Regions from separate parts of the Homo sapiens genome. Here all the other regions are linked to region 1. Evidence: fine-mapped expression QTL. A gene starts in region 1. Each other region holds a variant in brackets. All regions are shown on one strand. Distances are from middle to middle. Region 1 holds the start of ZDHHC14 (zDHHC palmitoyltransferase 14). Region 2 overlaps ZDHHC14 (zDHHC palmitoyltransferase 14). Region 3 overlaps ZDHHC14 (zDHHC palmitoyltransferase 14). Region 4 overlaps ZDHHC14 (zDHHC palmitoyltransferase 14).

Region 1 (7,915 bases):
GAAATTGTCTTACTAGTCATTTATTTATTTGTTTATTCTCTCCACCTCTCCCCCAGTCCCCAAATATAAGCTTCTATCTTGGATCTTTTTGTATCACTGCTGCTAAAACAGTACTTAGCACAATCTAGGCCCTGAAATAGATAACTGTAAAATAAATGAATAAACTCTACCATCCCTTATACAGTAGGTTTTACAGTCATCCCTCAGTATCCTCAGGAGATTGGTTCCAGGATCACCTGCGTATACCTGAATCTGCACATATTCAGGTCCTTAAACAGGCTCCACAGAACCTGCATATAGGAAGAGTGGGCCTTTGCCCTCTGAATACTCGCATTTCCCATCCCACGGATGCTGTATTTTCCATCTGCATTTGGTTGAAAAAAATCCGTGTCTAAGGGCATCCACGCTGTTCAAACCCATATTGTTCAAGATCAACTGTAGCTGGTGAGGTGAACTCTGCAGCTATCACACACCAGGTTCTAGTGAACGCTCTTAGGGGAGGGTAACCCATACAAGTGAATTAACCGCAGAGGTCTTAGTACACATGGAGTGGGAAGAAAAAAGTTATCCCCTGGAAGACAACTACAGACAATTGTATCAGCTATTTAGAAATCATATCAGCATATCTTATTTGCTGTGGAAACTTTAGGTAACATTTTAAAACGAATTCATTTCTTTTTATTATGGAAAATGTCAAACATAAACATGAGTAGATGTGGTAGGTAAGAAAAGCATAATGGACTCTCATGTACACTGTGGTGGATGCACTCCGGGGTGTCCCTCACCCTAGGGTTCATGCCCTGTGTACTCCTCTCCCTTTGAGTGTGTGCAAAACATGCTTTCTGGCCAACAGAATGTTCACATTTGAAGTTGCCCCCGTGGGATTGCTTTATGTTATATAAAATTCTGTCTTGCTGGAGACTCACTCTGGGGACTCTCCTTGCAGGCCTGACAAAATAAGTGGCTGTGCTCGGAAAGCCCAAGTGACAATGAAGTCCAGGTAACCTCTAGGAATTGCAGGTTCCCTCTTGGAGCTGAGGACAGTCTCCAGTCTCCAGCCAGCAAGAAGCCAGGGCCCTCGGTCCTACTGCTGCAAGGAAAGGAATTTTGCCTGTGCCCGGAGTCAGAGTGGAAGCCAGTTCTTCTCCAGTGAATGTGAACGCAGCCTGGCCAGCCCCTTGATGGCAGGCGTGAGACCCTAAGTGGGGGACTGAGTGTACCTGGACACCTGATCCATAAAAACTGTGAGAAAAATCTGTCTTGTTTTAAGGCCACTACGTTTGTGGCAATTTGCAGCAATAAATAATTAAGTACAAGTACATGTCACCCAAGGTCAACTATTTTCAACAGTTTCCAATTGTTTCATTTATACCTCCATGTCTGGAGCTGGGTGGGTGGGAGGAGGGGAGTGGATGGGCTGGTGTGTTTTAAAGCACATTTCAGACTTTATATTATTTCGCTGGCAGATACTTTAGTACATATCTCTAACAGACAAGGAAGGACTTTTTAAAAGCATAACCATAATGCCAGAAAAATTCGGTTTCATTGAGAATAAGAGTGGGAGTCTTTTTTAATGCCATCAAATCAATGGATCTATTATATTAATTGGACACCCACAGAAAAGGTGCTTGCAATAAACAGAATAAGAATAATACCCCGTTGATCTCATTAGCTAAAGGACAGGAAAGCATATGAGAGCTTTCACTTGAAATGTATGAAGCTTTCCAGTTGGTTTTTTAAAACTAGTCCAGCCACAAATACTTAATTGTCCCTGTAATATGCTTGTCTCTCATACAATATCTAAAATAATTAAAACCCAATTATTATCGTGTGCTTAAGATCCATTCTCCCTAGACTCTAACCGGCTTTGGAATGGACCCCTGTAAATTTCACTTGTATTCAAAACTCCTTGTAATTGCATGTCATACTCTAATTGCTATTCCCATCACTTTTTCCTTACCACAGCTCCTCCCAACTGGCCCTCTTGGATAAGCCAATCTCATCCCCCTTCGACACTCCTCACTGAGGCACGCTTTGTAAGGGACATACTTAGGGCTCTGGGTTCGATGCCATCTCTACTACTTGGGAGCTTTGTGATGTTTGGCCAGTAGTTAAGCTTTCTCTAAGCTGGATACAATAATGCCTCACCGGGTTCCGGCGAAGATTAGACAAAGAACATGTGTAACGTGCAAACTGCCCAGTACAGAGAAGGCACCGTTCCCCACAACCCCCTTTGTTGGTTCCCATCTCCCACCACCTAGCCCCAGAACGCCCAGCACCACGCCTCTCCTGCCCTTGTCGCGGGGGATGCAGGGACTTGTAGTTTCTAAGGCCCCGAGTCGTGCTTCTCCTCGGCGCAGGCCTGCGGGCGGAAGAACTACACATCCCAGTGGGCTGTGAAAGGAAAGTGGGGCTCGGGAAATTGAGCATCCCTGCCCAGCTGCCTTCGTTTTCTGCGGCCCCGGGGCTATGCCCACCTCTGCGGGGGCTCGGACCCGCGGCAACGCCTGGGAGGGCGCGAGCGAGCAGAAGCCCCAGGCTCCGGCCGTCCCAGGGCCGCGCCCGCAGCTCCTCCTGGGCTGTCGGGTGGGAAGGGGGGAGGCGCAGGCGGGAGAGGAGAAGCACGCGACCCCTCCGCTGCCGAGGGGGCTCCACGGGGGAATGGAGGGAGAAATAAAGCGAGCAGCTGTAAACGTCCGTGGGGAGAAGTGGAGACCGAAAGAGCTGGGCGGCAGCAACCCAAAACCTGGCCTCCAAGGGCTTATACTCCGGGAGGGAGGCCGGGGCCGGAGGGGACCCTGACCGCTTCCTCTGCCCTTCTTTCTCGGCCCGGAAGCCGGCCGAGCCGGGCCCCGAGACCCTCGCCCGCAGCCCGGTCCCGAAGTCAGGCCGGCCTAGGGCCGCCCCACCCCATCCTGGCACCCGGCACCCCCAGCCCATTTCTCGGGCATCACCAGAGTCCCCGGGCGACGCGACCACGCGCCCAGCTGGGGAGGAGGAAGAAGGGAGGCGCAGGCCGGGGAGGGTCACCTCCGCGCCGCGGCTCCTCAGGTCCCGGGGAGTCGCCAGGAGTGGCTTGCCGGTGGCCGTGGGAATGAGCGTGTCCCGAGGCGGCAGCTGCTGCGCGGGATAAACCCGGAAGAAGCCGCGAGACGGACTGAAGTCGGCCAGGAGCGCACTGCGCGGCGGGGCCGCGGGCGCCCGACCCCATCCCTACTTGGGCGATGCCACAGGGAGCCCCGCGCCTTCCACACCCCAGGGCGCCCGCCCGAGGGGGCTGGGGCTGGAATCTCGCTGCGCCGGTGCCCTGGCTTCGCGGGCGAGGAGGAGGAGGAGCAGGAGGAGGAGCCGCGGGTGAGGCGCGAGGCCACCGCCCACCCGGCCCGGAGGAGGCGGACCCACTCGGAGCGCCGCGCGCGCGCCGGGCTGAGCCTTGCAAACAAGTGTCTGTGCTGTGTCCCCGCGGCCCTCCTCGCGCCGGGGCCGCTTCCTCCGGGTAGGAGGGAGCAAGGGAGCCCTCGCCGCGCGGCCCGCGAGCCGCCGCCGCCCTCGGCCCGCGCATCCCCGCGCGGGGGCCGCGGATTCGACTAGGCTGCCAGGCGCAGCGACACCGGGTCGCGGTGCGAGCGGCGCCCCGGCTCTCGCCGAGAGGCTCCTGACAGAAAAACGTGCGTGGTTGTCCCCACCCCTGGGAGGGGTTGCCGGTGCCGCGCGCGGCCGCCCAGTCGCCAGCGCTCTCTCCTGGGAGGATCCGCTGCCGGAGGAAGGAGTGGACCCAACCTGGCCGCGCCGCAGAAGTGGCTCCCGAGGAAGCCGGCGCCGGGGCCGCCGCCTCGTGTCCCCTCGGGGCGCAGTGCTCGGGGGTCGGCGGGCCAGAGCCGAGGCGCGGCCGGGGAGCCGGGGGCTGCGGGGCCGAGCGGGCAGCCGCGCGAGGGGGCGGGCGCTCGGCGACCCGGGGGCCGGCCGGGCTGAGCCCCGCGCCCCGGGACGCGGGCTGGAAGCGACGGAGGAGTGCTGCCGCGGGCTGCGGACCAGCGCCGTCCCCTCACGGAGCGGGGATTCTGCTATGACAGTTGGGCTCCCCGGAGGGTTAACCTGGGTGTCCTCGGCAAAGTTGTCGCCGAGCCGGGAGCCCGTGTAGGGGCCGCGGCGCCGCGGCTCGGGGGGCGGCCGGGCGGCCGGCGGCGGTCGTGGCTCGGCGGGGCCCGCGCGGCCGGGGGGCTCCTGGGGGTGTGCGCCCCCAGCCGGCTGCCCTCGTGGATGCCTCCCGGCGGCGGCGGGCCCATGAAAGACTGCGAGTACAGCCAGATCAGCACCCACAGCTCCTCCCCCATGGAGTCGCCCCACAAGAAGAAGAAAATCGCGGCCCGGAGGAAATGGGAGGTGTTCCCGGGAAGAAACAAGTTCTTCTGTAACGGGAGGATCATGATGGCCCGGCAGACGGGCGTCTTCTACCTGACGCTCGTCCTCATCCTGGTCACTAGCGGACTCTTCTTCGCCTTCGAGTAAGTGGTGGCGACCGCTCCCCCGACGCCGCACTCCCCTGGTCTCCCCTGTCCCCCGCCCCTCCTCGGGCTGCTTTCGTTTTCTAGAAGTCTTATCTACTGTAAATTGTTATATAATGCCAGTCTGCGCTCCCTCTTTTTTCTTTTAAAGGTCTGATTGCTTTTGGGCCCCCGGAAAGAACGCCGTTCTGGGCTGGGCTTCTGGGAGCAGGGAGGGAAGGGGTCCACTTGCAAGGGGGGCCAGGCCTTGCCAATCCAGGTGGCGGATGGGACCCAGCAGGTGGGGCCGCCGGTCCCTGATCCTTGGGGCGCTCTCTACCGAGTTTGGGGACCCAGCAAATCAGCCCAGATGTAGCCTGCCGTGGGAAGGTGGGGTGCGATAGATTCCTAAGTCAGGGATACATGGAACTGACTTTTTCCCCCTTGCTGACAACATATAGGGCATCTTCTTAAGCTCAGTTGACTGAATCTCCCATGTAACTTCGACGAATAATTGAGGAATCTTGGCTATTTCAGGTTTCAAAGTGTCGGCTGCCTAGTGTGCCCTGGATAGATCATTGCATTCTCCAGCCTCCTACATGCTCACTCTGGATTAACAATTTCTTATTTGCCATGAGGTTTCTAAACTCTTCACTTTCAAAAAGGTTGCAATAAAAGGTGTCCAAAACAAACAATTTGGGAACATGTGAAAGGAGACCTTAGGTCTGTTAAGGAAGAGGATGACACTACGTGACAACTTCCGATTCCAGAAACAGTCTGGACTTCAGGGATTATATCTGGGGGGATAAAAAGCGCATGCAAGTCTTCACCGTTTTCAGGAAAATCAAATTGGCCAGTAGCAACTGTCCTCCTGCCAACTAATGAAAGGTCTTCTTATTTATTAGCAGTGATTAGATAAAGCAGTTAAACCACATTCCAATCAATTTTGGTTGCTTTTTTTGCATCCAACATTTGGAATGCAACTCCTTATGTAATTTCTGGTATCCTATGTTCAATGAAAGGTGGAGTTACTTTTTTCCCCTCAGAATTTAAAGAAAGCAATATATTTATAGGGAGCTCTTCTTTGGGCTTCCCAAATCCTGGTTATTATTGGGCTTGATACTCCTTCAGTCTCCGCCTCCTCCTGTTGGGTAGGCTCAATTAAAACCTTTTGAATTTATTTACTTTTGTTTCTGATTAGGATTAATAGGCTCTAATTTTGTGCCTGGCTTTTGCTCTTCCAAATGCTGTCTCAATTGGAAATGAATGATCTCTTGACAACGTAATACTTGTCGCTCAAAGCCCTCTGACTCTCAGGAGAAACGTTTTGTATCTGGACACTGTGCGCTGATTAGCAGTTTTAAGAGGACTGAGTTAGACCAGGCGATGAGAAGGATCTCTGATTTAAGCGAATTCCCCTTCCCCAGTCCTTCTCACACACAACTCCTCTTCCCCATTTCCGATGGTATGTGCAGTTCCCGGGTCCCCCTTGATGTTTAGGTTCTGTGTCTGTTTGACACTAGTAGGTAGAGTCAGTGGGGAGACCTGTGGACGGGAGGGGAAGGGTGTGAACAGGCATTCAGAGTGGCAGGGAGACACACTCTACTCATGCTGCTGTTGCTCCCATGGGCCCCCATTGAGAGCAGCCTCTTGTCCTTACAGACCTTGGAAACTGGAAGAAGGGGCATAGAGGTTCCCCATGAGTTTACGTTATCTGTTAGGATGAACACTGGCACTGGAAGCGTGATGCCATGTGGTTTAACAGAAATGCCATCTCTCTAATGGTGAATTTAGTTACAGGTGGTCCTCTAGTTGCAGAGTATTAACTGTGTTCCTACAGTTTTTTAAAAAAAATCTTGAACAGATCCAAATTGGCACTTTTGCTCTTTTTAGCGATTTTAACTGTGGAGAAAATGGGTTAATTTTGTGATTCTGTTGCAGAGCTTCAGCCACAAGTGTGCTCCATGGAGGATGATGAATATTTCATTTTCTGTATATACCCAAGTCCCCACTGTATGCTTAGGGATCCCCCCAGTTATTACTTAACATCTTTTATTTTCTTCATTCAAACATAGCTTCTAACCAAACCATCATAAATTCATTTTCGTTTCTTGATCTCTGCGTGTGTTTTTTCAAGAGTTCCCAAAAGTCCTCACTAGCAGGTTGTTAAGGATCTTTCTCTGTGTCAGTGTTATGTTAACTGATGACTGTAGGAATAAATGTGTGCGCCGGGATTTTATTAGCTGCTATTTGCAGCATCTTTTTTATATCAGCTCTGTGGGAGCGTATGTGTGTATATGTGTGTGTGTTTGCTCTCCATGGTTGTTGCTTCAACTAGGCAATTTGACATTTCAAGAAAACAAGAGGCCCATCCTAGTATGATGCCTCTGTTTGGAAAAATCAGAGGCTATTCGAGCTACAGAATATTATGGTTTAGCTGAGAATATTTGTCACTGTATTGCTTTCAAATTCTTTATTCATAAATTAAATAACCAATTTGACCAAATTAATTTGCTAGAGACCAAAGAACAAGTTAACCCCATACAGAGGAAGAAAATACCAACAGGCCAATCCCTAAGCGAGATCCAGAGGAAATGCCAGTACTGCCTGCCCCTGGCCTGCCTTTCTCCTGCCTTCCTCTAGTTATGTGGTCCTCTATTTTGATTGTTTAATTTCATGTCTAGATAGCTTTTTTAAAAATTTATTTTTAATTTTTTATAGAGATGGAGTCTGCCTATGTTCCCCAGGCTGGTCTTGAACTTCTGGCCTCAAGTGATCCTCCCGCCTTGGCCTCCCAAAGTGCTGGGATTATAGGTGTGAGCCACTGCACCTGGCCATCATGTCTAGATAGCTTTTTATTGGAGACAGAGTCTCACTGTGTTGTCCAGGCTGGAGTGCAGTGGCACAATCATGGCTCACTGTAGCCTTGACCGCCGAGGCTCAAGCAATCCTCCCTTCTCAGTCTCCTTAGTAACTGGAACTGTAGGCATGCACCACCACACCCAGCCAAGTTTTGTATTTTTTGTAGAGACATAGGGGTCTCACTATGTTGCTCACTATGATCCTGGGCTCAAGCGATCTCCTGCTTTGGCCTCCCAAAGTGCTGAGATTATAGGCATGAGCCACCGCACCTGGCTATCATGTCTAGATAGCTTTTAATATTAGTAAACTTCATTGTCAAACATTAGAATTGCGTTTCCCCAGTTACACAAAAGCAAATAAAATGTGTGACAAAAAGAGTGAATAACTTAGTCATTTAGTTTTAGCCCTCCCCTGTCTGCAATTCTTCTCTCATCCCAGCTCTCATTCCTGACCTTGAACAGATGGACAAGAAAGTTTGTCCAAGAGAAATGAACTTACTAGAACTCAGCAACAGGTGTTGATACAGTCTTTAGCCCCTGGAGAAAGGCAGGGTAGAAATGATTATTCCC
Region 2 (7,915 bases), 60 kb after region 1:
CAGTGTTAGTTGATTGCTACGGGATAATAAATTCATATATTTAAAACCAAAAAATATAGCTCTATGTGTGCTGTGATTCATTCTTCCCCATATTAAATTAGGTGATTATATAGGTCAGATTTTTACAGAAGAAGGACAAGTACAAGTTGGTTAAATTTATGACCTTAGTATTTACATGGGATGGTAGAGTTAAAAAAAAAAATCCAGGTTTACTTTCTTTTTATTTTATAATTTACTTGGTTTTCTAAATAGGTATAAAGCTAATTAAAAGTTAGGTGTACTGAACTATCATGTTTTTTTTATTGAGGTAAAATATACATAACATAAAATTTACAATTTTAATCATTTTAACTGTACAGTTCAGTAGCATTTATTATATCATGTAGTTTTAATTAATCCTATTGTGAATAATTTCTAAATCTTCAAAAAAAATGAGAAAGTAGAAAAGAGTGTAATTTACCCAGAAAAAAATATACTTCTTGAACAGGTTGCTAAGGTGTCACAAATTTGGGCTTTCCTGGCAAGAAGAATGCAAGCATTTAAGGTAAGAATGCTTTATGGAAAGTTCTTGTAGATTCTAGAAATAGGATTGTTTTTCAAATGGAGTGATTAATTTTATTTTGCAGGGAGAGGAAGGAAATCTCTAAGGTAGCCATATTAAGATAATTTTAAAGATTGTAAGGTTAAAATCTGGACTTTGAGTTGCATTTGGAAGTACAGAAAATCAGCAAGACTCTTGAAGACAAATGCCACGTGCAGACATCTCTAGTTTTCATCAGCTGAAGTTCACAAATTACCTTCACAGTTATCTCAAAGTACAGCACAATGCTGAAACCCCCCTGTGAATTTGCAAATGTGAGGATCACCATAGTAACAACCATATTAAACTTTACATTTTAACATTGTTCGTACAAGACGCTTGTGTCTTTGTAAGACTTTCTCAGGGAATAAAAAGTTTTTCCTTCCACTGTACCACAAGATATTTCCTGCTTATCTCAGGCATTGTTTTTGAAATCCGAAAGTCTGGATGTCATATTAAAAGCAGCCAAAATATTCGTGTTGGTGTCAGGATGTTAGAGTACTATTTCCAATAGCAGTTGGAGCTAGAGCTGTGGAATTTATGGATGTGTTTGGCTGTGGAGGATTGCAGAGAAAGCTGTGGACAAATATATTTTATAAGTGATAAATTCAGAGTATTGTCTGGGCGGTAGAGAGTGCCAAGAACTGAATTCATCTAGAATTGAGCATTCGTGCTGAGTTAGCCACTCCACTGCTTAGAGAATCATATTGCCAACAAAGAGTTTTTCTGGCAGTTCATGTGAGGGTCATTGAGCAACTTTTAAAAAAGTACCCTGTCACTTGGGTTTGGTACAGTTCCCCATCCAGAGAAACTCTGTCATGTTCCCTGTCTAACATATCCATTTATATCTCTTATTTCCTGCTAAATATTTCCGTTCTTCATTTTCAAAACATCTTAGGGCCTTTAAGAAAATGGCAACTACAGTTGCAGAGTGCTAGAATGGGAGAAAGTTTTTGCAGTCTACCCAACTGACAAAGATCTAATATCCTGAATCTACAAGGAACGTAAACAAATTTACAAGAAAAAACAACCCTATTAGAAGGTGGGCAAAGGACATGAACAGACACTTCTCAAAGGAAGACATTTATGTGGCCAACAAACATATTAAAAAAAGCTCAACATCACTGATCATTAGAGAAATGCAAATCAAAGCCACAATGAGATACCATCTCACACCAGTCAGAATGACCATTATTAAAAAGTCAAGAAACAACAGATGCTGGCAAGGCTGTGGGGAAATAGGAACATTTTTACACTGTCTGTGGGAACATAAATTAGTTCCAACATTGTGGAAGACAGTGTGGTGATTCCTCAAAGACCTAGAGCCAGAAATACCATTTGACCCAGCAATCTCATTACTGGGTATATACCCAAAGGAATATAAATCATCCTATTACAAAGGTTCATGCATACATATATTCATTGCAGCACTATTCACGATAGCAAAGACATGGAATCAACCCAAATGCCCATCAATGATAGACTAGATAAAGGCAATGTGGTGCATATATACCATGGAATACTATGCTGCTGTAAAAGCAGACAAGATCATGTCCTTTGCAGGGCCATGGATGAAGCTGGAAGCCATTATCCTCAGCAAACTAATGCGTGAACAGGAAACCGAACACCGCATGTTCTCACTTACATATGGGAGCTGAACAATGTGAACACATAGATACAGGGAGGGGAACAACACACCCTGGGGCCTCTTGGTGGGGTGTGGGAGGAGGGAGAGCATCAGGAAAAATGGCTAATGCATGCTGGGCTTAATACCTAGGTGATAGGTTGATCTGTGCAGCAAATCATCATGGCACACGTTTACCTATGTAGCAAACCTGCACATCCTGCACAGGTACCCTGGAACTTTAATAATAATAATAATAATAATAATAATAAAGAACACTTACAACTCAATAGCAGAAATACACACAGCCCAATTTAAAAATGGACAAAAGGCTCAAATAGACATTTCTGCAAGAAGAACCAGCAAGCCAAAAGACACATGACAAAATAGAGAAATTAGTCACTAGGGAAATGCAAGTGAAAACCACCCTGAGATACCTCTTCACACCCACCGGGATTGTGATAACTGAAAAATAAAAGGAACATACAAGTGTTTATGAGGACATAGAGAAACTAGAAACCTTGTACATTGCTGGTGGGAATGTAAAATATTGCAGCCACTGTAGAAAACACTTTGGAGGTTCCTCAAAAAATTAAGCTTAGAATTAATATATGACCTAGCAATTCCATTTCTAGGAATATACCCAAAACAATTGAATACAAATACTGAAAAAATACAAACATGCACATGTTCACAGCAGCGTTCTTTACAATAGCAAAAATGTGGAAACAGCTCACATGTTCATCAATGAGTTAATGGATAAGCAAATTGTGGGATGTTCATAAAATGAAATATTACTCAGCTATAAAAAAGGAATGAAGTACTGATACATGGTACAACATGGATTAACCTTAAAAACAGGTGCTAAGTGAAAGAAGACAGAAGCTATCACATATTTTATGGGAAGTGACTGCTTCATGTGTACAAGTTTTCTTTTGAGATGGTGAAACTGTTTTGGAATTAGGGAGAGTTGAGCTAAGACAACATTGTGGTTATAGCAAATGCCACTGAATTGCATACTTTAAATGGGTAATTTTACCATATATGAATTTTATCTTCATAAAAAGGGAAAAAAACAAACGAAAAGGAATGTGACTTATGGGGGTCTTTTCAGTGTAAACCCAGAGGAAATCTAAGTTTCCAAGATTTCCTTTTCTGTCTCTTTTTTGTGGCTGTG[A/G]TAGTTTTGTGTCCGTAAGTGAGCCACTAGTGAGAGTTGAAAAGAGGGAACCACACCTTTTAGGAGGTGGAAGTCAGGGCAGAGATAGAAAATAAGAGATAGTGTTTTGTCTGGAAGGATCGCTCATGGCTCAGATTTTTGTAGGCTTTGCAAATCCTCCATTCTGTCCCAGCAGGTTTCCGATCATTTGAGACGAGAGCTCTTCAGCTAGAAGTTGTTCCCAGGAAGACACCAAACACTTGTTCTTATTTCCAAATTCTGTGAATCTGGTTATTTGTTCTCTGTTGCTGTAGCCTCCTCATTGCTCACTGCTTTTGGAAGTGTTAGATTGGCAGATGTGTTGTGTGGGAGTGAGGAAAGGAAATTTCCTATGTTAATTTCTTTCTGACAAGCACATGTGCAAATCTAGACACAGCTTCTTGAACAAAAAAGAAACGGATGAAAGAAAAGAAAAAATCTGGCCAGGCACGGTGGCTCACACCTGTAATCCCAGCACTTTGGGAGGCCAAGGTGGGTGGATCACCTGAGATCAGGAGTTTGAGACCAGCTTGGCCAACATAGTGAAACCCTGTCTCTAAAAAAATTCAAAAATTAGCTGGGCATGGTGGTGTGCACCTGTAATCCCAGCTACTCGGGAGGCTGAGGTGGGAGACTCACTTGAACCCTAGAGGAAGAGGTTGCAGTGAGCCAAGATTGTGCCACAGCACTCTAGCCTGGGCAACAGAGTGAGACTCCGAATCAAAAAAAGAAAAGAAAAAATCAATATTCCTTAGTCCATGTGTGTATGTGTGTGTGAGATTTCCATACAGAAAAGATTTCTGTTTCGTGGAAACAATATTTTAGCATTAGCATTACAGTTAACTCATGATACCAATCTTTTATCCTCTTGATGCCTCAGATTTATTAACTATAGAATGGATATAGTGATGCTTGTTATCCAGCCCTCAGAATAATAGAAACAGTGCTCTGTTGAAGAAATAGATTACATTCATAAAGTTTTTTGAAAACTTCATCTGAGCATGGTGGCTCATGCCTGTAATCCCAAGCATTTTTAGAGGCTGAGTGGGGAGGATCCCTGGAACCCAGGAGTTTGAGACAAGCCTAGGCAACATGGTGAAACCAAAAAAATACAAAAATTATCTGGATATGGTGGTGCACACCTGTAGTCCCAGCTACTCAAGAGGCTGAGGTGGGAGAATCATTTGAGCCCCGGAGGTCAAGTCTGCAGTGAGCTGAGATCACGCCATTGCACTTCAGCCTGGACGATAGAGCGAGACTCTGTCAAAAAAACCCAAACCAAAACAAAACAACTTCCATACGCTACATTCATGAAGTAGGAACTATGGCTGTTACTACAGAATTGCTTTGGTAAGAGAAAGATGAGTCATGGAATGCAAGAACCATTTTCCTCCTGGCTTTCGAAACTCTAAGCCCCGCTCTCCCAGTGTGCCGGTTTGTTGGTGGCAAGATAAATATCACTTCCATTAACTAAAGAGAAGAAAAAGTTGTTTGCAGTCCATCAGTGTTTTGCCTGGGCGATTTTCTCCTGATGTAGAAAGCGTACCCTGGAGGGCACGAGGTTACGTGCTGTTTTGCCCCTGCCAAAGGTGGCCCAAGTCTGAAGCCCGCCCAGCAGACGCCTCCTGAAGAACAATTTGCTCTTCTCCTTCTGGCTCTTACTCAGCAGGTACGCTCTTAGAGGCAGCCTCTGCCACTTGCAGCACCCCTGGTGGATTTTATTTTTTAAATAGCAACAATTCTAAGACCTTTTTCAAGGAAGGCTTTTCCAGAGCTTGATCTGGAACATCACTGGGCAGACTGAGGTAGTCATTTCCTCTGTTACTAGTTTGAAGCCAATCAAGTAACTGCCTGTCCCCAGGCCTCTTGGGTTAGGGTCTGATATGGTTAGACTCTGTGTCCCCACCCAAACCTCAGATTGAATTGTAATCTGAATTGTAAACCCCATATGTTGGGGGAGGGACCTCGTGGGAGGTGATTGGATCATGGGGGCAGTTTCCCCCATGTTGTTCTCATGATAGTGAGTGAGTTCTCAGGAGATCTTATGGTTTTATAAGGGGCTCTTCCTTGTTTGCTCTGCACTTCTCTCTCCTGCTGCCTTATGAAGAAGGTGCTGCTTCCCCTTCCACCATGATTGTAAGTTTCCTGAGGCCTCCCCAGCCATGCTGAACTGTGAGTCAATTAAACCTCTTTCCTTTATAGATTACCCAGTCTCGGATATTTCTTTATAGCAGTATGAGAATGGACTAATACAGGGTCCCACTGCCTGTGTGAAGGGGAGCATTGTGGCAGCACCCGGGGTGATCCTATCCTGAACCCCATCCCTTTTGCTCTGCGGCTATCCCTTGACCTCAACCTCAGCATTCTTTTAAGGGAAAGCACCGTGAGCTATGAAGAAACCAGATGGTGGAATTTTAATAAAACCAAAAACATAAGCCAGGAAACCACTAGACCTGTTCTTTGAATGACTCACAGTGGCTGCCATCACTGGTGGTGAAACCAATCTATGTGGTGAGGTTTAGCACATGTCCAGCTTTAAAATGAATGGCCAAGGGTATTTTCCCACCCAAAGCTAAGATGAACTAGCTGCACATGGATATTCATGGCTCTTATTGATCTGATACACTCTGGCCCAATTGATCGACTCATGTTTGAATCCCAGTTCTGCCTCTTACTAGCTGCATGACTTTGGGTAGTGCCTTACCTTCTCTGGAACTCAGTTTTCCTCCTCTGTAGAGTGGAGATGTCTGCCTTCTAGGGTTCTGCTTCAGATTAAATGCCATAACCCAGATAACACACTTCAGAACAGAGCCTAGTGTACCGTAAGCACTAGTAAATGAATATGGTATTGTTATCTTATTATTTTTCAGAGTCAGCTAGCATTTAATAAATGTTCTATGTGTGCTCAGCATTGCACTAAGTCTTTATGTAATATTTTGTTTATTCCTCACAATGATCTCATGAGCAGGAGGTTAAGGAACTTGCCCAAAGTCAAACAGTAATCGTGATAGAGCTAACAATCTTAATATAAATTAAACTGACTCCAAATTATTATACAGCCTTCTGCAATATTATTAGATGGTCTCTACACCCGCAATGAAGCCTACAGTTAGTGAGCATATCATACTTAATGACAGAATCCCAGGGTACACATTGCAGTCTCTGCCTTTTGTGATTGGATGGGCTGTTTGGTAGCGGACACCACGGAATACACATTGAGGCAGGGAGCTCTGAGACTGGGGAGAGGCTCCAAGAGAACACTCAGTAAGAGGATATACTAGGCTGGGCATGGTGGCTCACGCCTGTAATCCAAGCAATTTGGGAAGGTGAGGCGGGTGGATCACCTGAGGTCAGGAGTTTGAGACCAGCCTGACGAACATGGTGAAACCCTATCTCTACTAAAAATAGAAAATTTAGCCGGGCATGGTGGTGCACACCTGTAATCTCATCTACTCAGGAGACTGAGGGAGGAGAATCACTTGAACCCAGGAGGTGGAAGTTGCAGTGAGCCAAGATTGCACCATTGCACCCCAGCCTGGGCGACCGAGAGAGACTCCGTCAAAAAAAAAAAAAAAGGGATATACTTTGCCCCTACATCCAGGAAAGTCAGTAACACTTTTCCCACCTCAGTTGCAGAAGACATTCTGTGGGCATCTTTGGTAGAAACAGCATTCACATTCCCCACTGAGGGCCGAGTGGAGGGGCCTTCCATGGTCTAGTCAGCTGCTCAAGGATGAGACCAAAGTGGGTACGGGAGGGGTCACTAGTCATTGAAAGGTCAGGCAGGAGCATCAATGTACTGATCAAGGCAAAGCCCAGAAGTGGGCATGTGGCCAGAAGCTGGGCTCAAAACATAACAGGGATCCCAGTGTGAGGAGGCCAGAGTTGAGGGCAGCAATTCTGACCATGTAGACAGAGTCCAGGCTGGGGAAGGGACCACAAGGGAAACACCTGGTGACTCTGGCATGGGTCTTAGCACTGCCAGATATTACACACACACACACACACACACACACACACACACACACACTCTTCATATCTATCTATCTATCATCATCATCATCATCATCATCATTTTATATATATAAAAACCTGTTGAAAATAATAGCTCTGAATTATTGGAGATAAATGAATGTTTCCAAAAGAGATGGAAAGATTCAAAGAGTTAATTTCACCTCTGTCTTCTGCCAGCTTCTTATAGCAGTTTTGATTAGACAAGAGCCATCACGGTTTATTAAAAATAAACAAAGCCAAGATGCGCCAGAAATAGATGAAAACCTGGTTCATTTGTCTTGCCTCCGTCTCATTCCTGTTACATCTCCATGTCATGCAGTTAGTTGTCTGTCCAAAACAGTTTCTATTTTTAAAGCAACAGAGGATACTTTTCAGGCTTGGGTTAGAGAGGCCTCTCTTTGGACCAATGGTCCCTCACGGTGTGTGGCAAGCCCCCTCTGCCCCCTTGGGTTGGTGAGCGGAGAGTTCTTTTAAGCCTAATGTCCTGCAGAAATTATCTGGG
Region 3 (7,915 bases), 160 kb after region 1:
GAGGGTCTTAGAGGTTCCAGCAAATGCCCACAGAAGGTGAACATGAGGCACACTCGGCTCAGCGAGCTGAGGAATATCCTGTCCTCTCAGCTGAGGGAGCCTCGCAGAAGGAACTGGGCCTTAGCATCTGTCTGAAGGAAGTTACAGGACCTAGCGAGCTGACAAAAGTAGAGAAGTTCTAGACCAGGTCTGTGGTTGCTGAGGGTATGGGTGACTTGACTCTCCTCCTCTTTCAGGTGTTACAGTAAAATTCACTAAATGGATTCTATTCATTCAGCTACTCAACAAATATTTATCAAACTTAGTTGCATTTTACATCATGCGAGGCATCCTGCTAGGTGCTACAAAGGACACAAAGAGGAACAGGAGCCAGTCTCACCCTCCAGGACTTTTAATCTAGTGAGGTGCATGGAGCATGTCCACAAATAGCCACATGTCCAAGGAGAGGAGCAAAGAAAAACACGGTGGGGGTTCAGAGAAAGAAGCGATCCCTTCTGCTTAGGGGGTGAGCCCAGAAACTCTACCAAGGCTTTTCAGGAAGCGGTATTGAGCTGGAACTGGAAAGTTGGGAGCATCAACATGCTGAATGGGAGGTGCGGGTGTTCCAGACACGTGGGCTGGACAGGCAGCGCTGGCGGTGAGTGAAAGCGGGTGCCTGCCTGAGACGCCCAAATGTTAGGTGTGGCCATTGCTGGGATTCAGGAGGGGGCAGTGAGAGAGAGGGAGAGAAGGTGACTGTGGGGGACTTGGACACCAGATAAGGAGCTCGAGCTTCATTTGGTAGGAACGGCGGAAGCATGGAGGGCTTTTGAGCAGAGACACGTGTGATTGGAGCTGGCGGTGGTGGTTGGGACAGATTGAAGGAGGGGATCATGGTAGGCAGGTATGAGGTCACTGTTCTAGGCTGGGTGTGGTGGCTTATTCCTGTAATCCCAGCACTTTGGGAGGCTGAGGCAGGAGGATTACTCGAGCCCAGGAGTTTGAGACCAGCCTGGGCAACAAAGTGTTTCTACAAAACACACAAAAAATTAGCCAGGTGTGGTGGTGAGGACCTGTAGTTCCAGCCACTCAGGAGGCTGAGCTGGGAGAATCTCTTGAGCCCCAGGAGTTCAAAGCTGCAGTGAGCCATGATCATACCACTGCACTCCAGCCTGGGCAGCAGAGTGAGGCCCTGTCTCCAGAAAGATAATAAATAAATAAATAAACAAACAAACAGATCACTGTTCCAGCTGTCCCCCGGAGAGAAGACAAAGAGGGCTTCTGAGAGGAGGGACTGGAAGGCAAAACAGCGTGGAAGGAAGTCCCTGAGTGGGAGGAAGCTGGCCGTTTCTATTTAAGAAGAGGGAAAGAGGAAGACATTGCAAGTGGGCCATGCACCTAGGTTCCCCCGGGGCGTCCAAAGCACTCACCAATGCGAGTCTAGGTAGAGCCGGTTTAACCATCTCCTAGACCCAGAGCACATAGTCGCCTTGTAACAGAACTCTTCCTGTAGGCTCTTTCCTGCCTCCCTCTCTACTTCACCTGCTTTATTCTCCACCGTGGAGGGGCCAGAAACTGCAGCTGGCGAGCTGGGGTAGTGGAGGGGGCTTAACTTCACATCAAGGTAGAAGTTACCGTTATTCACTGGGATTATTACTCTTTCATTTGCTTAAATGGCACTGTTTGCTACTTAAAGCGACAAGGACTTCCTATTACCTTCATATTATCATCAGAGAAGTCACTAGACCTGCCTGAGATTTCCTGCGGGGACAGGAGCAGGAGCAGGTTCCCAGGGAAACACAGACAGAGGCATTTCGGATCCATACCCTGATTTGTCCAAGTGCAACAGCCCACTACGCAGTTAGAGAACCCGGCAGGCAGTAGGCCTCCCCGCGTCAACTGGACTTTGCCTTTTCCTCCTTTCTGGGATGGCTCTGAACAAATCAGTGTGTGCTCAAGTGCAAATACCAATCTACAGTGTATTATCCCTGCAGTGAGAGTGTGGCAGGGGACATCCTGGTTAGGGGGTGGAGGTGATGAGAGGCCGCAGAGGCATCAGCCTGGGGAAGTGGGGTGGCTGTGGAAGATCCCAACCCTGCAGAGAGTGCACTTGGGACAGGGAACGGTGGAGGGCAAAGCATGCTAGAACTTGCTGTAAGAGCAAGAGGCAGCCTTTGCAACTTTGAGCAGGTGGACTTTGCGGTCCACCAAGCTGCGTCTCAGACCCAAAAAGGAAAAAATAAGCACACCAAAGCCTAAGATCTACTAAGTCACCCTCACAGGAGGGTTCTGGCCATTCACAAGTAGCCATCCTTGGAGAAGCTCCATAGAGTTAAATCACAGCTGTCAACACCTGAGGTGGAACACTCTCTCCTAACCGGGTCTGTCTGGTTCACGTTGTCCAGCTGTGCCCTCGCTGAAACTGGCTTTGCTGTGCCAACATCATCTTCAAATTCATTAATCTTGAGAAGGGGGAAAAACGTGGGCTTGTTTTACTCACTGCCATTGTTCAAACTATGTCGAATTGTGAATTTAAGTTTTTTTGGAAAATTCTTTTCTACACAGTTGCTCTTTTCCCTAACCATTTTGTAACAAAAAATTCCCCCTAAAGTAGATTATTTTAGACTAAAATTATATGTATTCAGGGTTTATATATATAACATATATAGATATATATGTATGTATGTGTGTGTGTGTGTGTGTGTGTATATATATATATATATATATATAATTTCATACCAGGGTAATTTCATGCCTTCAATGTAGACTGTGTTTCTTTTTTTAACATTTTATTTGGAAATAATTTCAAACTTACAGAGAAGTTACAAGAATAAGAGTAGTACAAAGAACATCCATTCACCCTTTACCCAGATTCACCTCTTGCTAATACTTGATCCCATTTGCTCTGTTTAGACAATATTTTTTTGAGCTATTTGGGAGTAAGCTGCATTCATCATGGCACTTTATTCCTAAATACTTCGCTGTACATCTCCTCATGCTAGGAAACTTGCACAGCCAC[A/G]GTCCACATTGTCAACATCAGCGATTGCTCCAGGAAGCTGTGTCTAGGTCTGCAGGCCTCTTGAAGGCTGGTGCACTAATGTTCTATCACTTGTCTCAGCAAAGGGGATCACGGCTTGTGGCTCTCAAGTCCCAGACTCGTGCCAGCATCCGTTTGCCATCCATCAGAGACCTGAACAGCAGTGGGGTGCTGGTTCCCAGGGCTTCCAAGACCAAGAGCCCTGTCTGCTTCCTAGTCTTGAGCAGAGCTGAGCTTCCCAATCCTTTCTTCTCCAGCTCCCCATCTCTGTTTTGTCTTGAGAACATAGAAGAGAATCTTCTGATGAGGTGGGCAATCTAGCATTGTTTTCCACGCCAGATGTCCTAATTCCGTGATTCTGCGTCATGTTCCCCAATGCCCATGATGTTATTTAATGTGGCGACAATGGACTGACTGTGGTCACTGCAGATCCCATCCTTCACTTAGGTCCAGGCATCTGACTGCATCAAGGGGCCACGGTAAGAACTGCTCCAGCTCTAGAATACCTGGATCTGAGACCAAATGTCAGACACTGGTTCCCAGGCTGGCTCGTGTAGAGTTTAGTCTGTCCCAGTGGCACTTCTCCCTGACTCATAACAATCCCTGCTTCACGTCAGCATGTCAGACTGACAGCAGTGAAAAGGTCGAGTTAAGAGTTGGGCCATGTTCATCCATTGATAGCTCAGATGCCCTCTGGAAAAGCATGAGATGATTCTATTCCAGCTGCTGAAATCCCTTAAATCTTCTTCCGAAACCTGCCTGCAAGTCCATTTCCATAGCTCATTCACTTTGGAATAGATTACCTCCAGAACATGGAAAATTGGTTTCTTGCCCTTTGAAAGTGTGTGTACAGTCCTCAGCGTTTGGTGCTGGCTGAAAGTTCCCGAGTCATTTGACCCAAGTGGGAAAGGCTGGCTCTCATGAAGATCATTCTAAATTGGTGTCTTCTTCTGTTATGTAATCCCAGGGGAGGGCAGGGGGATCTCATAGACTCCCGAACCGTGTTTACAGCACAGAGGACACGTGTCTATTTATACAAGCTCTGTGCGTCTTAGACTGATTATACAAGCAGGACTATTTTCATTCTTCTGCCAGCATCTTCCTGTAAGAGCAGAGGGCTTGGGCGTCATACTGGGGAGTGGGGGTTCAATTGTCTGTAAGACAGAACTGCAGACCTCCCCAAACGTAAATCTTTCACATAGATGAATTTTTAATGGAAATCAATTTCTCTCCTCCAAATAAGCTTTTGATTTCTTAGAAGATAAAGACTGCTTACTGTTGATTCCTAACATTGTATTTCCTTTCTTTTCCCCTTCTCTCCGGTCTGTCCAACCTGTCGGCAGCTGTCCGTACCTGGCGGTGAAAATCACCCCTGCCATCCCTGCAGTCGCTGGCATCCTGTTCTTCTTTGTGATGGGGACCCTGCTCCGCACCAGCTTCAGCGACCCCGGAGTCCTCCCACGAGCCACGCCTGATGAAGCCGCCGATCTGGAAAGGCAAATAGGTAACACTGAAAGTCTGCCCATGGCCTCTGGTCACTTCCCGCCTGGGCCCAGCTACAGTGGGGACGGCAGGCCGAGGGCTGTGCAGGAGGAGCTGAGCGCTGGGAAGGAAGGAGGCCAGAAGTCAGCGTTCCTTAGCTCGCTGGGTGGGCAGGATGAGCTGAAGAAGAGGTGGGATATAAGGCTGGAGGGACAGGTATCCTGGAGGCAGGACTGCAGGCCCACTCGAGCAAAGCATCAGTGTGAGCTGTGCTTCTGATGTTTCTTTGAAACCCAAGTGTTTGATTCCACTCTACTAAGCAGCCTCCACCCCGAGAGATTACAGTTGTAGGTTGCTGCCCTTTCTCCCTTTTGCAATCCTTGGAGCATGACCAGTTTCCATGATATAAATCTAGGAAAGTTACATCTTAGGCAGCTTTCTTGTTTATCCAGGCCAGGATTGAGAATTTCCTTTATTTAGGTATAATAAACATGTATCTGTGATATGTATTGAGATGAATAGCTTTATTTTTCCTTAGATATTAAAACCTATACTAAAGTTTATTACAACCCATTTTGAAGATATTAAAACAGATCCTAATCCCTTACACAACAAACTTTTACAGTTTTTTTTTTTTAATTAAAAGGAGTGCTTTTTCTTGCTCTTAAAAGTTTGTGATTGTGAATGTATAGCTTTGCTGTGGTGCTTTGGTAAATTTCACAAGCATGGCAGAGGAGCTGTGATGACTTGGTGTGAACATAATGTTTAGGCCTGAAAAATCACTTGGCAGAGATAATTCTCTTCCAGGATTCCTCCTATTCTATGGACTTTCCTTTGCAGCCTTCACTAAAGCTGGAGGGACCTCCCTGTCTACAGTGTAAGAAGATAGAGCTGTGGATCTTGCTGAAAAGTGCCTATTCTGGTCCTACCATTCCCCAAGTACTAAAGCACAGCTTTGTCCTTCTCTCGACATCTGCCTTCATCCTTCATCCCTGCTGCCTGGAAAGGGAGCAGTAAAATGGGAGTGTGTGGAGTGTGTGGTGTCATCTGCTAGACTGCAGCTGTCTTGTGTCCTGAGGTAGGAAGGAGGGGGAGGGAGAAGCAGCAGTGGGCAGACAATCTCTTTCTTAGCCCCTGCATCATGGGATTCCAAGACAGGGCATGCTAGTGCATAATTTTAAGGCTCACATTTTGTAGCACTTTAATCGTTTGTCAGGCCCATCCATGGCTATCACTGCATTTTTTTCCACATCTAAGCCACCTAGTAAGGAAAACTTTATTATTACACCCATTTTACAGATAAGGAAACAAAGCCCCCAAGAGGGGCTTAAATGGGTGAAAGTGGCAGAACTGGAGCCTAGAACCCAGGTTTCCAGATTTCAGACCTTGTTCTTTCCAGCTCCTCATATCATTGAGGAGAGAGAGGGAAGTCAAACCTAGTTTCCTTCAAAACTGTATGGTTTATGCCTACAATATATGAGCAGGTAACTTGAAAATCCTCTTCTCAGTGCAAGGGCCCAGCTCCCATACTGGGGGTGATGCAGTTTCCTGCAGTGATCCCCATCTCCAGGTTAGTGCAGGTGCATCTGCAAAATCAGCACGATTAGGAACAGACTTTCTGCCTTTCTTACAAAGTGGATGAGGCAGGGCACGGTGGCTCATGCCTGTAATCCCAGCACTTTGGGAGGTCAAGGTGGGAGGATCACCTGAGGTCAGGAGTTTGAGACCAGCCTGGCCAACCTGGTGAAACCCCATCTCTACTAAAAATAAAAAAAATTGGCAGGGTGTGGTGGTGCGAGCCTGTAGTCCTAGCTACTGGGGAGGCTGACGCAGGAGAATCGCTTGAACCCAGGAGGCGGAGGGTTGCAGTGAGCCAAGATGGTGCCACTGCACTCCAGCCTGGGCAACAGAGCAAAACTCTGTGTCAAACAACAACAACAACAACAACAACCAAAAAATAGAATAGTGAGATGCCACTTCACACCCTCTAGGATGGCACTAATCAAAAAGACTGACAATGACAAATGCTGGTGATGATTTGGAGAAACTGGAACCCTTGTACATTACTGGTGGGATTGTAAAATGGTACATCCACTTTGGAAAGCAGTTTCTCAGAATTCTCCAAAAGCTAAACACCATTACTATATGACCCAGCAACTCCACTCCTAGATATGTCCACACAAGGACTTGTATATGAATATTCATAGCTGCATGAAACCTAACAACCCAGATGTCCATCAGAGGATGAACTGATGATCCATATGTGGTATATCCATACAATTGGATTCCATGAAGCAATAAAAGGGAAGAAAAGTATTGATACAGGCTACAACATGGACATTAAAGACATTTGCTAAGGGAAAGAAGCCAGATACAAAAGACTATGTACTGTGTGATTCCATTTGTATAAAATGTCAAAGAAAGCACAAATCTTTACAGACAGAAAGGAGATTAGTGATTTCCTGGGGCTGGGAGGGTAGGAGTGCAGGTTAACTGCACATGACATGAGGGAGCTTGTTGGGATTATGAACATGGTCTAAAATTAAGTCGTGGTGATGGTTGCACAATGCAATAAATTCACTACAAGTCACTGAATTGCACACTTTCTATGGTGACTGCTGTGGTACATAAATTATACCTCTATGAAGATGTAAAAAAAAAAGGAGGAGGAGGCCGGGCGCAGTGGCTCACGCCTGTAATCCCAGCACTTTGGGAGGCCGAGGCAGGCAGATCACGAGGTCAGGAGATCGAGATCATCCTGGCTAACACAGTGAAACCCCGTCTCTACTAAAAATACAAAAAAAATTAGCCGGGTGTGGTGGCACACACTTGTAGTCCCAGCTACTCGGGAGGCTGAGGCAGGAGAATGGCATGAACCCGGGAGGCAGAGCTTGCAGCCGAGATCACGCCACTGCACACCAGCCTGGGCGACAGGGGAGACTCCCCCTAAAAAAAGAAAAAAAAAAGTAGAAGGAGGGTGGGAAGGGAGAGAGGAAAAAGATGGGGTGGAAGAAGCAGAAGGAAAAGAGGAAGGAGAGGGCTTTGGAGGGCCTCAGACATGGGTTTGAATCCTGGCTCACCCTTTCTCTAGTTGCGTGACTTAGGTGAGCGGTGCAGTTTTCTAAACTCTATCCCTCTGTGTTCTTATCTGTGAAATAGGAGTAATGGCATGGATCTTTTGAGGTTCTTTTCAGGATTAGCAATTATAGGAAAAGTGCCTGGCACATTGTAGATGTGTAGTAAATGATCGTTTTTTGTTTTGTCTAATTCTTCTCTTTTCCCACTCAGTTTTCTCTCCACCTTCTACAAATGTACGTTCTCATAAAAAGCTACCTAAGCGTGACAGGAATAAATGGCAGAGCTGGTACAATGTCTTTGGGACCGCTGCCTGCCAGCTTAGCTGTACCTCCTCCAGGC
Region 4 (7,915 bases), 130 kb after region 1:
CAAAAAAAATTGCTAAAGACTACATGCAGTAAAATACCATGTGTTTTGTTTTGTTTTGTTTTGTTTTGTTTTGTTTTGTTTTGTTTGAGATTGAGTCTCACTCTGTTGACCAGGCTGGAATGTAATGGTGCAGTCTCGGCTCACCACAACCTTTGCCTCCTGGGTTCAAGCGATTCTGCTGCCTCAGCCTCTGGAGTAGCTGGGATTACAGGTGAGCGCCACCACACCCGGCTAATTTTGTATTTTTAGTAGAGATGGGGTTTCACCCTGTTGGCCATGCTGGTCTTGAACACCTGACCTCAAGTGATCCACCCGCCTGGGCCTCCCAAAGTGTTGGGATTACAGGCATGAGCCACCATGTCTGGCCAATAACATGTTTATAAAACTCAAAAGCAAGCATATTCAAGCAATAAATTGTTCAGAGGCATTTGTGCATGGTAAAACTATGTTTAAAAGCAAGGACAGTTTCCTAGGGAGGGAGTCGTCTGGAAGGTAAGATCCAACGGTATTGGTAATGGGATCTAATCTTTAGTTGGGTGGTAGGATTGGAAGTATTGTTTTATTTGGGGGCTTCATGACTTTCTGTCTATTCATATAAAATATTACATAATAATCTTTAAAGTCTTTGCTAAGTTTACCATCATTTGCGTAGTTCAGGGAGAGGACCTAGAATATAACTAAGGCAACAGGAAAATAATGTTCGAAGGGGATTAGAGAAGTCCACATCATCTCAATGACAAAGAACTCACTGAGTTCTTAAGAAAATGTGACTGAGTGCAGTAGAGTGGCAAAGTAAGAGGAAGCCATGCCTGCTGAATGAATTAACAATTTATGAGGGAACAAATCATCATGTGGTTGGGGGAACCAGTGGCTGTAATCTATTTAGGCCAAAGTATATGATTAAAGGCTGTACCATGAGTTATTAAAACCCTGACGTCCTTGTGACTTGGCGAAATGTTTGTTCATGGATAGGGAGGCAGGGATCAGAAGTTAAAAAAAAAATTTGTTTAAACGAAGAATTAAATTGAGTCTTCATCTTTGTGTAGAAGTATAAGAGTTTTGTTTCTGTAGTCATCAGAGTTGATATTTGCCAGTAGCACATTTTCAGTGAATGATTTGGAAGGGCAAGAAAATCCCTTGGTCAGATGTAACTGAGTGCACCCAAGTGCTGAAACACTGAACAAATGCAGCTCGGTCAATGAGATCAGGGCCTGTTTGGCTCAGAAATACAGCAGATGAGCTCTAGTGTAGATAGCACCTGTGCTTGGTAACTTGCACCTCTCATTAAAGTCTTCTCTAGGCACTGATCATCCGTGGGAAAACACTGTAGCTTGGGTGGTTAAAGGCTTTTCCCACACTTAGTCTGGAATGGAATCTCTTCATGGTTAAATAGTAAGTTCTATTTCTGGTGTCATTTGTGTGACTCAGCACAATCTCATTATCCCTCTTTAGAAACATCCATGTCTCATTCACAACCTAAAACCCAGACTGAGTCCAGGGTTGAAGTCTCTGTCCAGCCAGCGGTTACTACATTACACAATTGTTATTTTTGTCAACCTATCTCAGTTTCCTCATTAGGGAAATGAAAGGGTTAAACTGGACTATTTCTGAGGTCTCTTTCAGATGCAATATTCTGACTCTGGGAATCCATTTGCAAAGAGCTGGATGTTGGAGAGAGCCCTCTGCAAGGTCAGCATGAGGCTAACATTAGCTGCCTTCTTGCTCACACTGTTATTTGTGCATGAGATGATGTGGACTTCTCTAATCCCCTTCAAACATTATTTTCCTGTTGCCTTAGTTATATTCTAGGTCCTCTCCCTGAACTATGCAAACAATGGTAAACTTAGCAATGACAAGCTAGAATCTTCCAGAGTTTATTTATTAATTTGCTTCTGCTGTTGTATATTAGGTATACAACTTAGGTGATGTGTGAAAAAGCCCATTAACTTTAGTGAGCCTTCATATGCTGACGACAGATATATTTTATATTGGTCCCTGGGGGAATGTTAATGTGAGCTATTGTCTATATCTAAAGGAAAACAACCACTCAGGATATTAGCTAGTGGATACAACTGTGCTTGCATAAAGTATCCTAAACATCCATGTCCTTCAACTCAGAGTGAATGTGGCCATTGATAAGTGGCACCTAGGAAAGTAGAGTCATTTTTTTTTTAATTTTGGTTTTTAATTAAAGTAACATATAGTTTAAAAGGCCAAATTGTGCTAAAAGACTTATAACCAAAACCAGCCATCTCCTGTGACCCTGCCCCCTACTCTCAGTTTCAACTGTTTTTGGTATTCTAAGTAATATGTATGTACTTCTCTCTTGGTTCATTCATGTTAGACATTATCTGTGTACTTTTTATTTTCTTATGCTTTCCCTTCCTCTTTCTCCCTAATCCCTTCAGAATAGCTATATCATAAATTTTTATTAAATCCATATCCAGATTTTTAAATTATTTTGCACATGTAAATATTGTTCACACCTATGCCAGGTTGTACTATGAATATTTCCTTATATAACATTTTATATTTCCTGACTCATTTTTTTTTTTTTTTGAGACAGAGTCTCACTCTGTCACCCAGGCTGGAGTGCAGTGGTGTGATCTTGGCTCACTACAACCTCCGCCTTCCAGGTTCAAGCAATTCTCATGTCTCAGCCTCCTGGGTAGCTGGGATTACAGGCACGCCACCACACCTGGCTAATTTTTGTATTTTTAGTTGAGAAGGAGTTTTGCCATGTTGGCTACACTGGTCTCCAACTCCTGACCTCAAGTGATCTGCCCACCTTGGCCTCCGAAAGTGCTGGAATTTCAGACGTGAGCCACTGTGCCCAGCCTCCTGACTTGTTTTTGTATTTGGACTTTTCCACATCTTCCAACAGCTCTGTAAAAATATGTCCATCCAATTGCACCCATTCTTGCTATTTTAGCTCTATCTGAGCCTCCTTCCACTTCAGTTGGACTGGCCTGGGGCACTGCTGTCGCTCCAGAGTCTCCCGTCATGATCATCCTGAGGGTTTTCCTTGCCCCTCTTCTGGATGGGCATCCTCCTTGGCAAGGAACATCCTTCCTGTTCCTGCATTCCAGATCTTCAGCTTCATCATTTTCCTCCCTGCTTTTGGTGGAAAACACCCTGTGACATCTTAAGGAAGCAATACCTTTTTGAGATTTTAAATATCTGAAAATATGTTTATTTCAATCTTACACTTGATTGATTGTCAAGTTGGGTATACAAATATGAATGGAAAATCATCCTCAATCAGAATTTTGAAGCAATGATTCCATTGTCTTCTAGCTTCCACATTTTCTATTCAGAAGTCCAGGGCCATATACTAAATATTTGAACCTGACCTTGTCCCCACCATTCCTTTACCTCTTTCAAAGCTTTTAGATGTTGTTCTTTACAGCTGGTGTTTTGGAGGTTTTGTTTTCTCAAATGATGATCAATCATTGTGTTGGGCATCAATACCAGGGTGGTGGTGAGTCCTGTTGATGTAGAAATGTGGGTTTTTCATTTCTAGGAGATGTCCTTCAATAATTTTCCTCCCCATTATTATTTTTTGTCTGTTCTCTCTATCTGAAACTTCTTTTGTATCTGTAACTCTTTCATTTGGATATTGATGTGTTGTATTTTTTTCTTGAGACAGGGTCTTACTCTGTTGCCCAGGTTGGAGTGCAGTGGTGCAATCATGGCTTGTTGCTGCCTCAACCTCCAGGCTCAAGCAATCCTCCCACCTCAGCCTTCTGTGTACTTGGGACTACAGCCATGTGCCACCATGTCTGAGTAATTTTTTTATTTTATATTTTTTGTAGAGACAAGGTCTCACTATGTTGCCCAGGCTGGTCTTGAACTCCTGGGCTCAAGCAATCAGATGCTCCTACCTCAGCCTCCCAAAGTGCTGGGATTAAAGGTGTGAGCCACTGCACCCAACCAATGTCTTGTATTGATCCTTTAATTTTCTTAGCTTTTGTATTATCCATCTCTTGATCTTTTTGTTGCACTTTCTGGAAAATTTATTTAACTTTATCTTCTAATGTTTCAATGAATTTTTAAATTCACCTGCAATATCTTTCAGTACCAAAAACTCCTTCTTGTTCTCTAACTGTTCTTTTTTAGTGTCCTGTTCTTGCTTTATTTTTCTGATGATATAAGTTATAGTTTCTTTGAAAAATAAAAAGAGAGAGCCCACTTCCAGGCTTATTGAGGTTTTAAGTAAATTTCAGTTCCACGTGGTTGGAGGACACAAGTTCCCGTTTCTTCCCGGCTGTTGGCCAGGGGTTAACCTCAGCTTCCAGAGGCCCCCTGCATTCCTTGGCTCGTGGCTCCTTTCACTCCAGCAGCAGTGGGGAGAGTCTTCCCCACCTTAGAATCTCTGCCTCTCTCCTCCTGCCTCATCTCTCCAACACACTTCTTCCAACACCCCTCTACGCCCTTTGTCTTCTGTCTCTAAGCACTGATGTGAGTACCCTGGGCCCACCTGGATGATCCAGGATGATGTCCCCATCTTACCATCAGCTGAATAGTGACCTTAGGAGCATCTGCAGAGCCCCTTCCACAGCAGCATCCAGATGAGGAGTCTCAGGGAGACCTCTTCAGAATCCTGCCTGCCACATGTATACACACATATTGAGTCTTAACCACTTTGTGAGATACAGCTTAACAAATATGTACACACATAGTGAACCTAACTTTTTTAATGGGGACAACTTTATTGTCCCCATTTAAAAAATATGAAAACTGAGGCATAGAGAAGTGAAATGACTTTCCAAG[G/A]TCAGTTAGTAGGCGGCAGAGCTGGATTCACACCTGGCAGTGTGTCTCCAGATACTCCCTCTCTGTTACTCGCCAAGATGCCCTGCAAGCCAAATGCCATCTCAAACACTGATGACAGGTGTATTCATATTTTGAAATTAATAAAACTGTGAGAGATAGAGTTGAATGTGAAAGGTGCAAAACTGCCCATTTAAGGCCTTCAAGTTTTCTGGATATAGAGTGCTTTCCTTTTCATTCATAGGATTGGTTCATAATCTTTAAAAAAATATAATGTTTGCAGACTGGGTACAGAGAATTGAAAAGGAAGGCATGCTAGTTACTTGGCATGTAGCAGGACTTCGAATTGACAGGTGGAGAATCTGAGGCCAGAGCCTCATTGCCATGTCTCTTCCTGCAGCCTCCACTCTGCTCTCACTTCCCTCTCCTCTGTTAAATTCCCTACTTCATGGCCGGGTGCGGTGGCTCACGCCTGTAATCCCAGCACTTTGGGAGGCTAAGGCGGGTGGATCACCCAAAGTCAGGAGTTTGAGACCAGCCTGGCAAACATGGTGAAACCCCATCTCTACTAAAAATACAAACATTAGTGGGGCATGATGGCCAGGCCTGTAATCGCAGCTACTCAGGAGGCTGAGGCAGGAGAATCACTTGAACCCGGAGGCTGGAAGTTGCAGTGGGCCCAGATCGCGCCACTGCACTCCAGCCTGGGTGACAGAGCGAGACTCTGTCTCAAAAAATAAGTAAAATAAATAAATAAATAAAATTCCCTACTTCAGCTGCACACTTGCCACTGCTTCCACCCCATTTTCACTCCTCCTCACAACTAAATCCCTGAAAAGAATGTTCCAGATGCTCATTCATCCTCTCACTGACCCCTGCCACACAGGCCCCTCTGCAGGCAGCCTTCCATGCTCACTGCTCCATGAAGCCGTCCTGGTGTGGTCTTGGGTGAACTTGTCCACCCCAGGACACCCACTAGGCCATGTCTTACCAAGTCCCTCAGTGCTGGACAGGTGGGCCACTGCCCTCTTCTGGAACTTTCTTTTCTCAACTTCTTTGCTGCTGCTCTTCCAGGGCCTCCCCCTACCTTCTGACCTCTCTTTCTCAGTCGCCTCTGCTGATTTTTCTTTCTCCACCTGCCTCCTTATTTGCAATCCGCATAAGGAGAAGCAAATGCAGAGCTCTGGTGGGCAGAGAGGAAGCGCGGATGAGCGAGGTGGGAGGGGCCCGGGGTCCACGTGGAGCACGCCCCTTCCCAGCAAGGGGGGCGTTCATTGCGCAGAGCTCCACCAGGCAGGCGCCCAGGGATGGCCACCAGTCCCCGAGTTTCCAATGGCCTCTGCCTTCCTCAGACACCTCCCTCGCTTCAGCGGTTTCAGTAACCATACCGGGGCTGCTTCCTGCCCATGTTTTTGCCCATGCTTTTTACAGCATTTAAAAATGTATATGTTTGTTTCATCATAATTTACCTTTGTGGCTTAGAAATCAAATCATGGAAAGCAACTGTCTCCAACTCCACCCTCGCCGACCGCAGCCTCCGCCTCAGAGCCAGATCCTCTTCCTCTTCCTTAGTAGGCATCTTCTCCGACTCGGCTTCTAAGTCCGGCTCTTTTTGTGTGGGTTCCAGGGCCCTGCCGTGGGGGCAAAGAGGATGGAGTTGCTTACCCACCATTTCCTCTTGGCTGGCGGGCTGCTTATTGCGAAGGTGAGACAGAACTGTGGGGCGGGAAGCAGGAGAGGAATCGCCCGCACCTGGAATTTCTCTTTTAGTTTATTTGCTTCCTGGTTCCATTTTCTGTAAACTACAGCCAATCATTCTGTTCAGAGTGGAGCGTGGAGTGGGGTAAGTGGTGGTGAGAGTGCATGAGGAAACTTTTTTTTTTTTTGAGACGGAGTCTTGCTTTGTTGCCCAGGCTGGAGTGCAATGGTGCCATCTCGGCTCACTACAACCTCCGCCTCCCGGGTTCAAGCGATTCTCCTGCCTCAGCCTCCCGAGTAGCTGGGATTACAGGCATGCGCCACGAAGCCCGGGTACTTTTTTTTTTTTTTTTTTGTATTTTTAGTAGAGACGGGGTTTCTCCGTGTTGGTCAGGCTGGTCTCGAACTCTCAACCTCAGGTGATCCACCCACCTCGGCCTACCAAAGTGCTGGGTTTACAGGCTTGAGCCACCGCGCCCGGCCCACATTTTTATATAATAGTACATTTACTTGCAAATATTGGAAATGTTCAGCCTATTTAATTTCCACGTTTGCCTAATGCATGTGCTCTATCTCTGGATTTACAGTTATCGTCCATTATGAGCTGGGAATTTCTAGAGGACCTCTGTGTGTGTGTTAGTGTAGCACTTAGCACAATGTCATAAATAAATAGGCTTTTAATCATGCTGATGATATTGATCACACTCACGATGTCTGGGAGAGAAGGTGTTGGCTGTGCTGCTCAGTGGTCTTGATTTCTTAGAACTGGAGCATGAACAACATGCTCGAAATGCGAAGTAATGAACTGGAACGGTGAAGAAGGTCATAAAGAGCCTACCTGGAGGAGGATAGTGACGGCACTGTCACAAATGCTTTATATGTATTATTTAATTCTTGCAGTTCCCTCCTGCGGTAGGTCCAATTATTATCCTCATGTTCGAGTGAAGGAAACTCAAGCAGGGTGAGGTTAGGTTAATAACTTGCTAAAGTCACATGGCAAGTAAGTGTGGAGCCGGGATTTGAACCCAGTCATCCTGGCTCGGGGTCCATGGCCCTGGCTGGCCCTGGATGCCGCTGGGGGGCCCTCTGTAGGGCTGACTTGCCCTCCTCAGAAGCCCCTTCCTTAGCTTACGGCCACATAGCCCTCTGGTAGTCCTCATCACCAGCTCTGCTCTTAATTTGGCCATTTTCCGCCTTAGGATTGGAGTGAATCATCCTTCAAAGACAGAGCCACGTTCTGCACTGTGTTAAGCATAGTCCGTGGCTCACAGTTCATGCGTGAGCCACACACACATGCACACTTTGTTGGGAAGAAGAGCAACAATAAATTGCTTATTTAGAAATGGGCGAGGCCAGGTGCAGTGGCTCACATCTGCAGTCCCAGCACTAAGGAAGGCAGATGTGGGAGGATAGCTTGAGCCCAGGAGTTCAAGACCTGCCTGGGCAA

Evidence for each region. PIP is the estimated chance that this variant, and not a neighbour inherited with it, causes the effect. A credible set is the group of variants that fine-mapping cannot tell apart.
Region 2: its variant is the best candidate, but not a certain one, in a credible set for the expression of ZDHHC14 in whole blood (INTERVAL, PIP 0.63).
Region 3: its variant is the best candidate, but not a certain one, in a credible set for the expression of ZDHHC14 in whole blood (INTERVAL, PIP 0.59).
Region 4: its variant is the best candidate, but not a certain one, in a credible set for the expression of ZDHHC14 in cerebellar hemisphere (GTEx, PIP 0.69).

Annotation. Positions count from the first base shown.
Region 1 is chr6:157,377,762-157,385,676 of GRCh38, forward strand. ZDHHC14 (zDHHC palmitoyltransferase 14) reads left to right here and starts at 3,429. Exons shown (of 9, transcript NM_024630.3): 1 at 3,429-4,505. The coding sequence starts at 4,261. LOC124901446 reads right to left here and starts at 3,330. Exons shown (of 1, transcript XM_047419644.1): 1 at 1,553-3,330. The coding sequence starts at 2,940. The coding sequence ends at 2,050. RefSeq lists enhancers at 1,753-2,365, 2,977-3,588, 4,347-4,486 and silencers at 2,567-2,646, 2,807-3,696, 4,207-4,256.
Region 2 is chr6:157,437,717-157,445,631 of GRCh38, forward strand. All of the region lies in intron 1 of ZDHHC14 (zDHHC palmitoyltransferase 14), which reads left to right. Among named protein-coding and RNA genes, the nearest start is that of ZDHHC14, 60 kb to the left of the region's middle. RefSeq lists a silencer at 657-857. The variant A/G (reference allele first, on the strand shown) is at 3,382.
Region 3 is chr6:157,538,226-157,546,140 of GRCh38, forward strand. ZDHHC14 (zDHHC palmitoyltransferase 14) reads left to right here. Exons shown (of 9, transcript NM_024630.3): 2 at 4,360-4,520. Among named protein-coding and RNA genes, the nearest start is that of MIR3692, 13 kb to the left of the region's middle. The variant A/G (reference allele first, on the strand shown) is at 2,999.
Region 4 is chr6:157,504,743-157,512,657 of GRCh38, forward strand. All of the region lies in intron 1 of ZDHHC14 (zDHHC palmitoyltransferase 14), which reads left to right. Among named protein-coding and RNA genes, the nearest start is that of MIR3692, 20 kb to the right of the region's middle. RefSeq lists a silencer at 1,061-1,261. The variant G/A (reference allele first, on the strand shown) is at 4,774.